3 linked regions of the Homo sapiens genome follow. The protein of the gene in region 2 purifies or fractionates together with the protein of the main gene of each other region. This does not show direct contact. Each region holds a gene or a part of one and is shown on either strand. Other genes may lie near its edges.

Region 1 (5,022 bases), on a different chromosome or scaffold from region 2:
GCCGGGCGCGGTGGCTCATGCCTGTAATCCCAGCACTTTGGGAGGCCAAGGCGGGGGGATCACGAAGTCAGGAGATCGAGACCATGGTGAAACTCAGTCTCTACTAAAAAATACAAAAAAGTAGCCAGGCGTGGTGGAGGGCGCCTGTAGTCCCAGCTACTCTGGAGGCTGAGGCAGGAGAATGGCGTGAACCCGGGAGGCAGAGCTTGCAGTGAGCCGAGATCACGCCACTGCACTCCAGCCTGGGCGACAGAGCGAGACTCCATCTCAAAAAAAAAAAAAAGAAATGTTTGCTTGAAGAAGAAAGTGAAAGATAATTATAATCTCACCACTGACAGACAAACATTTTAACAGCTTGCTGTGTATCTTTCCAGACTTTTAAAAGACATAGATTTATATATAAACCAGTTTTGACAAAAATGGGCTAATACTATGCATACTGCTTTGTAACCTTTAAAAGTACATTGTGAATATATTATAAACATTCTTTCACATAAATGTTTATGATAGAAATATAAATATATTTTAAGTGAATGCTTTGCTCTCAAGTCAAAGATCAATATTCCTAACTTTACCGGAACCCACTAGAATTATTTGCTGTTGGGTCAGTTGGATGAACCCTAAGTATCTTTGGCTGCTTTTCAGGTTGGCTCTGACACGTTTTATTCCTTCAAGTACGAAATCAAGGAGGGGGATTGTCCTGTTCAAAGTGGCAAAACCTGGCAGGACTGTGAGTACAAGGATGCTGCAAAAGCAGTAAGTGTATTGGCCATTCTTGGGCCTTCTGTTTTCTCCGTTGACCCTGCCAGATTTTTTTACTGATGCAGAAATGATGGCTACTGGTGAGCCTGTTTATGAGAAATGCAAATAAACATTCCAATGTGTAGAAAAGTCAGATGCTTTATATCTGTGTTCTTGTATAGACAGAAAAATCATGGAGAAGCCAGCAGTTAAACATGGAGAAAGCCTTTCCATGAGAAGGGGGCTCTAGTGTCCAGCCAGAACATGTGGCTCAGACTCCAGAGAGATAACAAATTGACATTTGGGCCAAGCCAAAGAGCTGGCGAGGGGAGGGGGTGGGTGCTTCCATTGCACAACGTTAAGTGCAAATCTTGACTCTGCCTTCCATTAGCTGTGTGATAGCGGGGGAGCTGTGACCTCTCAGAACTGGCACTTTCTGCTGTATATGGGAGATAATATTGACCTCATCAGGTTGTTGGAGGATGAAATCAGATGAATTATGCAAATAACTTTGATAACAATGGCTATCTTAACCAAATGCCTAACATATAGGCCTGGCACACCATAGCTGGTTGTTGTTTTGCTTTTTTTTTTTTTTTTTTTTTTTGAGCCAGAGTCTCGCTCTGTCGCTCAGGCTGGAGTGCAGTGGCGCGATCTCGGCTCACTGCAAGCTCTGCCTTCCAGGTTCACGCCATTGTCCTGCCTCAGCCTCCTGAGTAGCTGGGACTACAGGCACCCACCACCACGCCTGGCTAATTTTTTGTGTTTTTAGTAGAGACCGGGTTTCACCGTGTTAGCCAGGATGGTCTCAATCTCCTGACCTGGTGATCTGCCTGCCTCAGCCTCTCAAAGTGCTGGGATTACAGGCGTGAGCCACCACGCCCAGCCATGGTTGTTTTGCTTTAATTAAGAAAGATTTCAGACAGTATCTGCCTCAGAAGCAAGCCTCTCTTTTCATGGATTGATTCCCTTCTTTTATGTCAGAACATAAAAGATGACTGCCAGTCATCTGCCATTACCAAAGAGTACTGAACTCCAAGTCAGGAGTCTAGGATTTTGCAGTGCTGGTTCTCCCTTCTCAGTCATCTCATCTGTAAGGTGGGGATAAGTAGCTGCTGTGCTCTGTACTGCCTGCTTCTAGGGGCTGTGTGGACAAAGGGAGGTGTGCTTTATCCTGATGGAATAGTATCTGTCACTTAGAATCCAATGGATATGACTGAAGAATGAAAAGACAAAACAAAACAAAAACACTGTTCAACAATAACAATTAAACAGCTGCCTATTATTAAGTGCCTGCTGTGTGGCGGGCCTCTAGTAGGCATTTTGTGTGTGTTTGCACACATACTGTTCACAACAACTCTAAGAGATAGATGTATCCCATCTTCTACAAGACGGGTAAACTGAGACTCCAAGAGTCAAGGGGACATGACAGAGTTAACAGCTAGCAAGTGACAAGGCTGGAACTGAATAACATTTTGATGCCAAGGTCCTTGCCCTTTCTATTAAGTTAAACTGAAGTTTATGTGAACAGTATTAACTCACTGAAGTTGAGTGGTAGATAAGAGGAGTGTTTAGCAGGCTGGTTCTAGACCTCTGCGTCCATCTTGGTTAGAAAGAAATAGCTCCAGAGCTCAGCCAGGTGCAGTGGCTCACACCTGTAATCGTAACACTTTGGGAGGCCGAGGTGATTGGATCATTTGAGGTCAGGAGTTTGAGACCAGCCTGACCAACGTAGTGAAACCCTGTCTCTACCAAAAATACAAAATTAGCTGGGTGTGGTGGCACGTGCATGTAATCCCAGCTACTTGGGAGGCTGAGGCAGCAGAATCACTTGAATCTGGGAGGCAGAGGTTGCAGTGAACCGAGAGATCGCACTGTTGCACTCCAGCCTGGGTAACAAAAGCAACACTCTGTCTCAAAAAAAAAAAAAAAAAAAAAAAATAGGAAACAAAAGAAAAAAGAAATACCCTCCAGGGCTCAAAACAAAGACTCAAGCTTTAAAACCTCATCATTTACACTGTCTTTCCTCCAGCATCTCATGAATATCAGTGGCTTATATAAAGTAATCATTAGGCTATTAAAAAAATTTATTCTCATGTCTCAAAACTCTTTTGGTAAAATCTTCACAAGTTTTGTTTTGTTTTGCTTTTTAAGGAAAGCCACATTTAGCAACAGTATTAGGTAGACTTTCCCATCTGAAAGATTAAGATAAATGATCTCTTTCTTTTCTTTTTAGGCCACTGGAGAATGCACGGCAACCGTGGGGAAGAGGAGCAGTACGAAATTCTCCGTGGCTACCCAGACCTGCCAGATTACTCCAGGTGGCTGGTTTATCCTCTGGCACTGCCCTGGTGGGAAATTAACCATTTCTGTGAGCCAGGAACACAATCTTGACCAGGCTCTGCTTGCTCCCAGAGGGTGGCAGTAGTAAAGCCATTTGCAGAGTTAGGGAGCATTGGGTGGAGCGGCAGAGCCCGGAGGTTGAGCCAGGCTTGTGACCATCATCCCCTTAGGACTATCCCAACTCTTCCCGTGTGCTGCATTGTACCCAGTGTGTGCAAGGGCTCAACAGAAGGACCAGAAGACATAAGACCTGCCCTCCATTGCAGGCAGCATCCCAGATTGAGGAGCGCATAGGCTTTGAGGGCAGACCTGGCCTGGAATCTTTCAGAGCTCCTTGCCTTCTTGCCTCTCCTTTTCCTTGTCTAGAAAAGGGAGGTAAGAGTACTTCCCACTTCACAGGACTGTTGTGAGGCTGAAATGAGATGATATGCCTGGAGGTACAATCATAATAACATACTAACATATTAATCATAATAACATATTAGCAACAATCAGGATAAAAGTAATAGCTAAGATATATTGAGTCCTTATGTCCCAGCCATGACTCAAAGCACCTTACATGTATTATCTTCTTTTTCTTTTTTTCTTTTACTGATACATAATATTTTACATATTTATGAGGTACATGTGAGTGTTTTTTACATGCATTGAACGTGTAATGATTAAGTCAGGGTATTTGGGGTATCCATCACCTGGAATAGTTATCATTTCTATGAATTGGTAATATTTCAAGTCCTCTCTTTTAGCTACTTTGAAATATACAATATATTGTTGCTAACTATAGACACTCTAGTCTGCTATGTAACATTAGAACGTATTTCTTCTATCTAACTATAATTCAGTACCTATTCACCAACCTCTTCATTTCCCCCTTCTACCCGCTTACCCCGCTCAGCCTCTGGTATCTGTCATTCTCTTCTCTTCTCTATCTCCATGTGATGGTTTTAGCTTCCACATGTGAGTGAGAACAATGTGAAGTTTGTCTTTCTGTGCTTGAGTTGTTTCACTTAACGACCTCTAGTTCTGTCCATGTGGCTTTAAATGATATGATTTCAATTCTTTGTTTACGGCCAAATACTATTTCATTGTGAGTATATACCACAATTTCTTTCTTTTTTTTTTTCATTTTGAGACAGAGTCTCGCACTGTCGCCCAGGCTGGGGTGCAGTGGCACGATCTAGGCTCACTGCAACCTCCCGGGTTCAAGCAATTCTCCAGCCTCAGCCTCAGCCTCCTGAATAGCTGGGATTATGGGCATCGCCACCACGCCCGGATAATTTTTGTGTTTTTAGTAGAGATGGGGTTTCACCATGTTGGCCAGGCTGGTCTCGAACTCCTGACCTCAGGTGATCCACCCGCCTCGGCCTCCCAAAGTGCTGGGATTACAGGTGTGAGCCACTGTGCCTGGTCCCCCACATTTTCTTTATTCATTCACCTTTTGATGGACATTTAAGTTGATTTCATATCTTTGCTATTGTGAATACTGCTGCAACAAACCTGGGAGTGGAAGTACCCCTTTGATAGGCTGATTTACTTTCCTCTGGGTAGATGCCCAGTAGCTGGACTACTGGATATATGGTATTTGGTGTTTTCATTTTTTGAGGAATCTCCGCACTATTTTCCATAGTGGTTGCACTAATTTACATTCTTACCAACAGTGCATTAGAGTTCTCTTTTCTCCATATCCTCCTGGCTGTGTTTACCGCTTACATGGCAGGCAGCGAGAGCTCTGTGGTGAAGAAGTCCAGGCTCCCAGGGGGTCCCTCCAGGTGTGCCACTCACTCTGCAGCTACGTTCCCTTTTTATGGACTTTGCCTCTATTGACCAGTAGGTTAGGGCTATCTGTTATGAACATTACTTGATAATTTAATACAAACTCTTTTTAATAATAGCCATTCTAACTGGGGTAAGATGATATCTCATCTCATAATGGTTTTG
Region 2 (5,262 bases):
TTAGGGTCAGACCGCAGAATCTAAACTGACCCTATTGGCTATCTGTGAATATTTTCCCCAAATAAGGAAGGGTAGGGGGATGTGTGAGTCATGATGGTGGGATGTGCAGTTTCAAAGAGTGGAATAGCTGCAGAATGAGTAGCCAAGGGAACAGATGTGAGTTATTGATTAGAGCTGATGGGAAGGTTGTTTACAGTAACTAGAGGCAAGGAGGCATGGAGAACAGGAAAGTTGAGTTTGAGAACAAAGAACAAGGAAGTTTACAGGCTGAACTTTTGAAGAGAAATTCAGAGAAATATATTGTATCTTACACAGCTACTCCGGAGGCTGAGGCAAGAGAATCACTTTAACCCGGGAGGCGGAGGTTGCATTGAGCCGAGATCCCGCCACTGCCCTCCAGCCTGGGTGACAAGAGCGAAACTGTCTAAAAAAAAAAAAAAAAAAAAAAGAAAGGCAATAATACTCAACTATTCTCTTCATCTGAAGTTCTTAGGTCTGTACTTCCCCACAGTGCTTCAAAACAGAGGCCTCCAGGAACCAGGAAGAAAGAATGGAGGCTTTATTACACTGACACTAGAATTATTTACTATTATAATCAGAATAGTATTCTAGTATCAGTGTAATAAAATATCTAGTATCTGTATAATTTATTAAGAGCATGTTTGGACTAAGTGTAGTTTTTACATTTTTTTCTGAAAAATTTGATCCTAAGGAAAACTTGAACATCTAACACACCCAGTCTAGTAGATTTACTTAATTTTTTAGCATTTTATTTCTTTCTCCTCATGTAAATCTTACAGTGAACAATTTGAGTGTAAATTGAGCATAAATTGTACATGTGATGCTTGACCTTTAAATACTTTGTAATGCACCTCCTAAAAATAGGCATTGTCATACTAAAACCACAATACTAGTATTTCACTTAAATTAAAAATAATAATGTCATCTAATGTCTACTTTCCGTAATAACTAAAATTCTCCTCATTGATTCAACGTATGCTCTTGGGTGTTTTTGGATCTAAGATCCATTCAAGATTTTTGCATTGCAATTGTCAGTGTCTTCAGTGTCTTTTTGCCTATAACAGTTATTACTGTCCATTATATTGACTTTCAGAGAGTCACACTCATTCTCTTAGAAAGTCATACAATCAGATATTTCTGATTGGATTCTCATGGTGTGTGTAAATATTCCTTTATTTCATGCGATTTCCTACAAACTTGGAATTGGGTCCAGAGGAGAGGCTGACAACAGTTGTTTGATAATGGGTGACAGTATGTACTTCATGCTTTGGGGACCAGAAAGTCTCAAATTACTCAGTTCAGCCTTAGTTACTTCATGTCCCATGACTAGTTGTTCATTCTCTGTCATGTGCTAGTGGCAAACCACAACCTGTTTCTCAAGAGAAAAACAGTTAATCTGCACAAGAGGGCATGGATTGACTCTGCAATACCAGAGGGCTGTACTCTACATCTTCTGTTGGTGCATGCCGGAGGCTTCCAATAAATAACATGCCATTTAACATGGACACGTTGAGTATCACTGGGTCTGCTGGATCAGGTGGACCAAGTGCTTAGGAAGCTTGCATTGCAGCCTGAAATTGCTCTTGTCTACAGTTGAAACTAGAATCCTTACAGGTAACTGTGTGGGGCGTTAAAGTACATGCAAATGTATGTGTTGCCTCCAAAATTCAAGAGGTCTATGGATGGTAGTTTTTGAGAAACCTCCATGCTGGGTTTTTTTTCTTTTTTTGAGACAAAGTCTTGCTGGATCACCCAGGCTGGAGAGCAATGGCATAATCATGGCTCATTGCTCCTTGTTAATGGTAGGTGGTATTAGGTGCAGTAACTTGGAGTGACATCTTGGAGGGATGTCTTTACATGATCCAGACAAGGGAATATCTTTACCCACAGACATGGTGGCCCCAGAATCTCCCACTCCCTATTTTACAATCCAGAAAAATTTTTTTGATTCATAATAGATGAACATATTTTCAGAGTACATGTGATAATTTGATACATTCACATAATCAGGGTAAGTAGCATACCTGTCACCTTAAATATTTATCTTTTCTATATTGTAGGAACATCGTTATTCTCTTAGCTGTGTTGAAATGTATGATAGATGCGTATTAAGTGTAGTCACCCTACTGATCTATTGAATACCAGTTCTTATTTCTTCTAACTGTATATTTTACCGATGAATCAACCTCTTTTTTTTTTTTTTTTGGGAGATGGAGTCTCACCGTCACCCAGGCTAGAATGCAGTGGCATGATCTTGGCTCACTGCAACCTCTGCCTCCTCCCGGATTCAAGTGATTCTCCTGCCTCAGCCTCCCGAGTAGCTAGGATTAAGGGGTGCACCACCACACCCGGCTAATTTTTGTAGTTTTAGTAGAGACGGGGTTTTACCATATTGGACAGGTTGGTCTCGAACTCCTGATCTCACATAATCAGGGTGATCTGCCCGCCTTGGCCTCCTAAAGTGCTGGGATTACAGGCATGAGCCACCTCACTCAGCCTAATCAACCTCTCTTTATCTCCGTCTCCTTCCTACCCTTCTGGCCTCTAGTAACCATCAATCTGTACTCTATGCTCATGAGATCCACTTTTTAGCTCCCACATGTGAGAATATGGGGTATTTGTCTGCTGTGCTTGGCTTATTTCACTTCCATGATGACCTCCAGTTCTATCCAGTTGCTGCAAATGACAGAATTCCATTCTCTTTATGGCTGAATAATAATCTGCTGTCTATATATACCATATTTTCTTTATTCATTCTTTCATTGTTAGACACTTAGGTTGATTCCATATTTTGGCTATTATGAGTAGTGCTGCGGTAAACAAGGGAATGTATATATATCTTTTCAAATATATTGATTTCCTTTCTTTTGGATATATACCCAATGGGATTCCAGATCATATGGTAGTTCTATTTTTAATTTTTTGAGAAACCCCCATACTGTTTTTTTTGTTTTGTTTTGTTTTTTTTGAGATAGTCTTGCTGTGTCACCCAGGCTAGAGTGCCATGGCATAATCATGGCTCACTGCAGCCTTGACTTCCTGGGCTCAGGTGATCCTCCCACCTCAGCTTCCTGAGTAGCCAGGACTACAGGCCTCCACTAATACACCTGGCTAAGTTTTTTTGTTTGTTTCTTTGATTTTTTGAGACAGAGTCTCACTCTGTCACTCAGGCTGGGGTGCAGTGGCACGATCTTGGTTCACTGCAACGTCCGCCTCCTGGGTTCAAGCAATTCTCTTACCTCAGCCTCTGGAGTAGCTGGGACTACAGGTGCACGCCACCATGCCCAGCTAATTTTTGTATTTTCAGTAGAGACAGAGTTTCACCATGTTGACCAGGCTGGTCTCAAACTCCTGACCTCAAATGATCTGCCTGCCTTGGCCTCCTAAAGAGCTGGGATTACAGGCATGAGCTACTGTCCCTGACTGGTTGTGTGTGTGTGTGTGTGTGTGTGTGTGTGTGTGTGTGTGTGCGCGCGCGCGCGCGCGCTCGCGCGCGTGCATGCAGACAGGTCTTGCCAGTTTCAGACAGGTTTTGTGCGTGCATGTGTGTACAGACAGGTGTTGCTGTGTTGCCTAGCCTGGTCTGGAACTCCTGGGCTCAAGTGATCTCCCACCGCAGCCTCAAGTTTTGGGATTAAAGGCCTGAGCCACCACACCTGAATATTGTTCTCTACAGTGGCTGTACTAATTTATATTCCCACCAACTGCATACAAGGATTATCTTTTCACCATATCCTCATCAGCATTTGTTATTCCCTGTCTTTTTTATAAAAGCCACTCTAAATGAGGTGAGATGATATCTCATTGTGGTTATGTGTGATTTGTATTTCTCTGATGATTAGTGATGTTGAGCATTTTTTTGTATGCCTGTTGGCCATTTGTATGTCTTTTTTTTGAGAAACATCTATTCTGACCTTTTGCTGATTTTTTTATCGGATTTTTTTTGTTATCAAGTTTGAGTTCCTTATATATTCTGATTATTAATCCCAGGTGGATAGTTTGTAAATATTTTCTCCCATACTGTAGATTGTTTCTTCACTTTGTTGATTGTTTCTTTTGCTGTGGAGAAGCTTTTTAGCTTGATGTAATCTCATATGTTTGTTTTTGCTCTTGTTGCCTGTGCTTTTGAGATCTTCCCAAGAAATCTTTACCCAGACCAATGCCCTGGATTGTTTCCCAAGGGTCTTCCTCTACTAGTTTTATAGTTTCAGGTGTTAGATGTAAGTCTTTAATCTGTTTTGACTTTTTTTTTTTATGCTGAGAGATGGCATCTAGTTTTATTCTGCATATGGTTATCCAGTTTTCCCAGCAGCATTTATTGAAAAGACTGTTATTTTCCCATTGTATGCTTTTGGTGCCTTTGTTGAAAATGAGCTGTCTGTACATGTGTAGATTTGTATTTAGGTTCTTTGTTCTCTTCCATTGATCTATGTGTTTGTTTGTTTTTTTTATGTCAGTACCATGCTGATTTGGTTATGATAGCTTTGTAGTATATTTTGAAGTAAGGCAGTGTGATGATTCCAGCTTTGTTCTTTTTGTTCAGTATTTCTTTGGCTGTTTGAAGTCTTTTATTGTTGCATATAAATTTTAGGATTTTTTTTCTATTTTTGCGATGAATGTCATTGCTATTTTGATAACGGTTGCTCTTAATTGTAAATTGCTTTGGGTAGTATTGTCATTTTAACAATATTCTTCTAATCCATGAGCATGGAATGTCTTTCCATTTTTTTTCTGTATTCTCTACAGTTTGTTTCATCAGTGTTTTATAGTTTTCCTTGTATAGCTCCTTCACATTTTTGGTTACTTTTTATTTTCTCTTTTTTTCAGAGGTGGGGTCTCACTTTGTTGCCCAGGCTGGAGTACAGTGGTGCAGTTGTAGCTCATGCAGCAGCCTTGAACTCCTGGGCTCAAGGAATCCTCCTGCCTCAGTCTCTTTTGAGTAGCTGGGACTACAGGTGTGTGCCATCATGCCTGGCTAATTTCTTTTTTTTAATTGAGACTGAGCCGTGCCATGTTGCCCAGGCTGGTCTTGAACTGTTGGGCTTAAGCAATCCTTCCACCTCAGCCTCCCAAAATTCTGGGATTACAATTGTGAGTCATCATGCCTGGTGCTGGCATTTTATAGTCTTTGCAGCTATTGTAAATGTGATTACTTCCTTGATTTCTTTTTCAGATTGTTCACCGTTGGCGTATATAAATGCAACTGATTTTTGTATGTTGATTTTGTGTCCTGAACATTTA
Region 3 (4,344 bases), on a different chromosome or scaffold from region 2:
CAGGCTGGAGTGCAATGGCACAGTCTTGGCTCACTGCAACCTCCGCCTCCGAGGACCAAGCAATTCTCCCGCCTCAGCCTCCTGAGTAGCTGGGACTACAGGCGCATGCCACCACACCCGGCTAATTTTTGTATTTTTAGTAGAGATGGGATTTCACTATGTTGGTCAGGTTGGTCTGAAATTCTTGACCTCGTGACATGCCTGCCTCGACCTCCCAAAGTGCTGAGATTACAGGCATGAGCCACTGTGCCTGGCAAGTTTTGTATTTTTAATAGAGATGGGGTTTTGCCATGTTGGCCAGGCTGGTCTTGAACTCCTGGCCTCAAGTAATCCACCTGCCTCAGCCTCCTGAAGTGCTGGGATTACAGGCATGAGCCACTGTGCCCAGCCTGCCCCCAGCCTTTCTGTGCCCTTCTGGACAGGAGTACCCTGTTCCCCCAAGCTGAGGCTCTTGGGCTCAGGTGCTAGGATGTATCTCACCTCCACCATTTACCCAACATGATCTGGGGCAGGTCAGTTCTCCCTGGGCCTCAGTTTACTCGTTGGTGAGTGGAGTCAATAATAGTTCCACTCATGACATTGTCTGGAGGTCAAGATGAGATAGTTCATGATGACCCAAAACGAGATCCCTGGTGTCTGGGACCCAGGGGCTGCCCCATGACTGACATGGTTGCTGAGGGAGGGCTGGATTCACCCTTGCTGGGAGGTCAGGAAAGACTGTGTCAGGCTCTGCCCTCTGGGAGGGGGTTGTTAAGCCCAGATGGCCACAGAGGGAAATTCTGAGGGACTGTCTGGCCCTGCGCCTTTTTTTTTTTTTAAGATGCAGTTTCGGCCGGGCACAGTGGCTCACGCCTATAATCCCAGCACTTTGGGAGGCCGAGGCGGGCGGATCACAAGTCACAAGGTCAGGAGATCAAGACCATCCTGGCTAACGTGGTGAAACCCCGTCTCTACTAAAAATACAAAAAATTAGCCGGGCGTAGTGGCGGGCACCTGTAGTCTCAGCTACTCGGGAGGCTGAGGCAGGAAAATGGCGTGAACCTAGGAGGCGGAGCTTGCAGTGAGCCGAGATCGCGCCACTGCACTCCAGCCTGGGCAACAGAGCCAGAATCCGTCTCAAAAAAAAAAAAAAAGATGCAGTTTCGCTCTTGTTGCCCAGGCTGGAGTGCAATGATGCAATCTTGGCTCGCTGCAACCTCCGCCTCCCGGGTTCAAGCGATTCTCCTGCCTTAGCTTCTCAAGTAGCTGGGATTACAGGTGCCTGCCACCATACCCAGCTAATTTTTTGTGTTTTTCGTAGAGATGGGGTTTCACCACGTTGGCCAGGCTGGTCTTGAATTCATGACCTTAGGTGATCCGCCCGCCTCGGCCTCCCAAAGTGCTGGGATTACAGGTGTGAGCCACCGCGCCCGGCCAAGGATCTGGGCCATTTAAGTGGAGTCTTGAAGGATGAGTAGGTGTTAGGCACAGACGCACAGAGGCAGGCAAAGCCACAGGCTGTTGGTTTAGGCAAAAATTGAGACTGGCTGGATAAAGTGGTCTTGGGGGACCATCACCAGAGAGGAGGCGCTGGAGGTCTGCAAGGCCTTGTCCTGCCCCTCCAGGGGTAGAGGTTCCAGGAGGGGCTGACTTTTTCTCCTGGAAGCCTCACAGAACTGCAGACCCCACGGATGGCTTGGTGTTGCCAACATGAGGCTTCTAAGGCTTCTGCGGGGAGATGGGTTGGTGGGGAGAAGCTGGGGGTGGCAGTGGACAGGACAGGGTGTGGGGACAGCTTTGGGAGCTATGCTAGGCAAGGACAAGGGACAACTCTTGGGGGGACTCACCCAGAGGGGTCTTGAATGGTGCTGAAGGCCCCCGACAGCCCTCCTGCAATAGCCACTGTAGCTCTGCCTGCACCTGGGCCTTCGCTCTGCTGTCGTCCCACCGGCAGGAGTCTGGCTAAAGGGGCATCCCTCAGCCCTACTCCCTCATCAGTGTTCCCAGTACCCACTCCCTGGCACTTCCACTCCTAGAGGGAGGAGGCTGAGCAGGCAGAGAATGGGACGTGTCCCCTCAGAGGAGCCTCGAGCCCAGTTCCAGCCAGCGGCCCACTCAGTGAGGTGCTCAAGTACCCACGTCCCCCGCCAGCTGCCAGGGTTCCCTCTCCTCCCTCCGTCCCTCCCCCCATCTGGGGAGCCCAGCGGTACTGAGGGGGCGGAACGAGGCGGGGCCACCGAGCGGTTATAGCTGGGCCTGCAGGGGACCCACGGCTCGCCTCCAGCCTCCTGCGCTCCGGTACCTGGGCGTCCCAACTCCACTGCGCGCCCAAACCCAGCCGAGCCGGTTCGTGGCCCGCCCCGCCGGGCGGCCGTCGACGCGAGCGCCCTGGCGTGGCGCCCAGGGGAGCGGGGGGCTCCCGCGAGCCGGCCGCGGCTGGCACTGCTGCTGCTTCTGCTCCTGCTGCCGCTGCCCTCCGGCGCGTGGTACAAGCACGTGGCGAGTCCCCGCTACCACACGGTGGGCCGCGCCGCTGGCCTGCTCATGGGGCTGCGTCGCTCACCCTATCTGTGGCGCCGCGCGCTGCGCGCGGCCGCCGGGCCCCTGGCCAGGGACACCCTCTCCCCCGAACCCGCAGCCCGCGAGGCTCCTCTCCTGCTGCCCTCGTGGGTTCAGGAGCTGTGGGAGACGCGACGCAGGAGCTCCCAGGCAGGGATCCCCGTCCGTGCGCCCCGGAGCCCGCGCGCCCCAGAGCCTGCGCTGGAACCGGAGTCCCTGGACTTCAGCGGAGCTGGCCAGGTACGTGAGAGGGGAGAGGCCTGGACCGCCGCGGGCAAGGGGGTCTCGGGAGGTCTGAGCCGGAGCACGGAGCCGCGCGTTCAGGGGGCACCCTCGGGCCCTTCCATTCCCTGCTCCGCGCCCAGAAGAGCTTTCCCTGGGCAGGCTCGACCCTGGCACCCGGGGGCGGTGGTTGGAGGGCCACAGCCTCCTCCCCACGGCCTTGCTGTGTTCTCGTTAGAGACTTCGGAGAGACGTCTCCCGCCCAGCGGTGGACCCCGCAGCAAACCGCCTTGGCCTGCCCTGCCTGGCCCCCGGACCGTTCTGACAGCGTCCCCCGCCCGCCCGTGGCGCCTCCGCGCCTGACCCAGGAGGAGTGGCCGCGCGCTTCCAGGAGCCGCTCATAGACCCCGCCTGCCGTCCGGTCAATAAAATCCGCCTGACTCCTGCGCCCCCGCATGCGACCCCTTCGTCTGCTTGTGTACTTTGCCGTCTAGCTCAGGGCGCAGACAGGCGCGCCCACGCCCTGGCAAATGTCAGGGGCCCCTCCCTCGCCGACCAGGGGAAGCGCCGGGCACTCAGCATTCATTTCAAACCTGGATCTCCCGGCACCCCCTCCCTCCCTTAGCCAAAGGCTTCCGCAGATTGATTAAGAACCCCTGGTCCCCTTCTTCTGGGTCATGCCCCGGGAGGAGGGGCCCCTCCACCTGAGCCCCACCTTGCTTCTTGCTTTTTTTTTTTTTTTTTTTTGAGATGCAGTCTCTCTTTGTTGTCCAGGCTGGAGTGCAATGGCGCGATCTCGGGTTACTGCAACCTCCACTTCCCAGGTTCAAGCGATTCTCCCGCCTCAGCCTCCTGAGTAGCTGGGATTACAGGCACCCACCATGATGCCCAGCTAATTTTTGTATTTTTGTAGAGACAGGGTTTCACCATGTTGGACGTGCTGGTCTTGAACTCCTGACCTCAGGTGATCCGCCCACCTCAGCCTCCCTCCCAAAGTGCTGGGATTACAGGCATGAGCCACTGCCCCTGGCTGCTCCTCTGCCTTTTTTTTTTTTTTTGAGACGGAGTCTGGCTATGTCGCCCAGGCTGGAGTGCAGTGGCGCAATCTCGGCTCACTGAAAGCTCCGCCTCCCGGTTTCACGCCATTCTCCTGCCTCAGCCTCCCGAGTAGCTGGGACTACAGGCGCCCGTCACCTCGCCCAGCTAATTTTTTGTATTTTTAGTTGAGACGGGGTTTCACCATGTTAGCCACGATGGTCTCGATCACCTGACCTCGTGATCCGCCCGCCTCAGCCTCCCAAAGTGCTGGGATTACAGGTGTGAGCCACCGCACCCGGCCTGCTTCTCTGCCTTTTATCCCCCTCTGCATGCACTTCTGGTCACTGGCTCCAGCCCCCCCACATAAATGTGCCCTGCCATCTTGAACACCGAGGACCTCCATCCACCAGGCCCCCTCCAGTTCCCTTCCCAAGGGTCTGGGCCCCTCCTCCCTCCCGCTGCCTCTTCAACCCTCTCTAATCTTCCCTGGGACTCCAATGACTGTCCTGGACCCCAAACCACCAAGGTCACATGCCCTGATGCAGC

The links. The genes of interacting proteins can lie anywhere in the genome.
Region 1: the proteins of ZNF562 (region 2) and KNG1 purify together in Homo sapiens (affinity purification with mass spectrometry; 3 studies listed by BioGRID and IntAct, with this or other methods). This does not show direct contact.
Region 3: the proteins of ZNF562 (region 2) and NPW purify together in Homo sapiens (affinity purification with mass spectrometry; one large-scale study listed by BioGRID and IntAct). This does not show direct contact.

The regions. Positions count from the first base shown.
Region 1 is NC_000003.12:186,719,460-186,724,481, forward strand, and holds part of KNG1 (kininogen-1 isoform 1 precursor), read left to right. Parts: intron 1-645; coding exon 646-756; intron 757-2,977; coding exon 2,978-3,062; intron 3,063-5,022. UniProt on the Homo sapiens protein: Kininogens are inhibitors of thiol proteases.
Region 2 is NC_000019.10:9,667,964-9,673,225, reverse strand, and holds part of ZNF562 (zinc finger protein 562), read left to right. Parts: intron 1-5,262. UniProt on the Homo sapiens protein: May be involved in transcriptional regulation.
Region 3 is NC_000016.10:2,017,535-2,021,878, forward strand, and holds NPW (neuropeptide W preproprotein), read left to right. Parts: upstream 1-2,250; 5' UTR 2,251-2,367; coding exon 2,368-2,778; intron 2,779-2,998; coding exon 2,999-3,085; 3' UTR 3,086-3,221; downstream 3,222-4,344. UniProt on the Homo sapiens protein: Plays a regulatory role in the organization of neuroendocrine signals accessing the anterior pituitary gland. Stimulates water drinking and food intake. May play a role in the hypothalamic response to stress.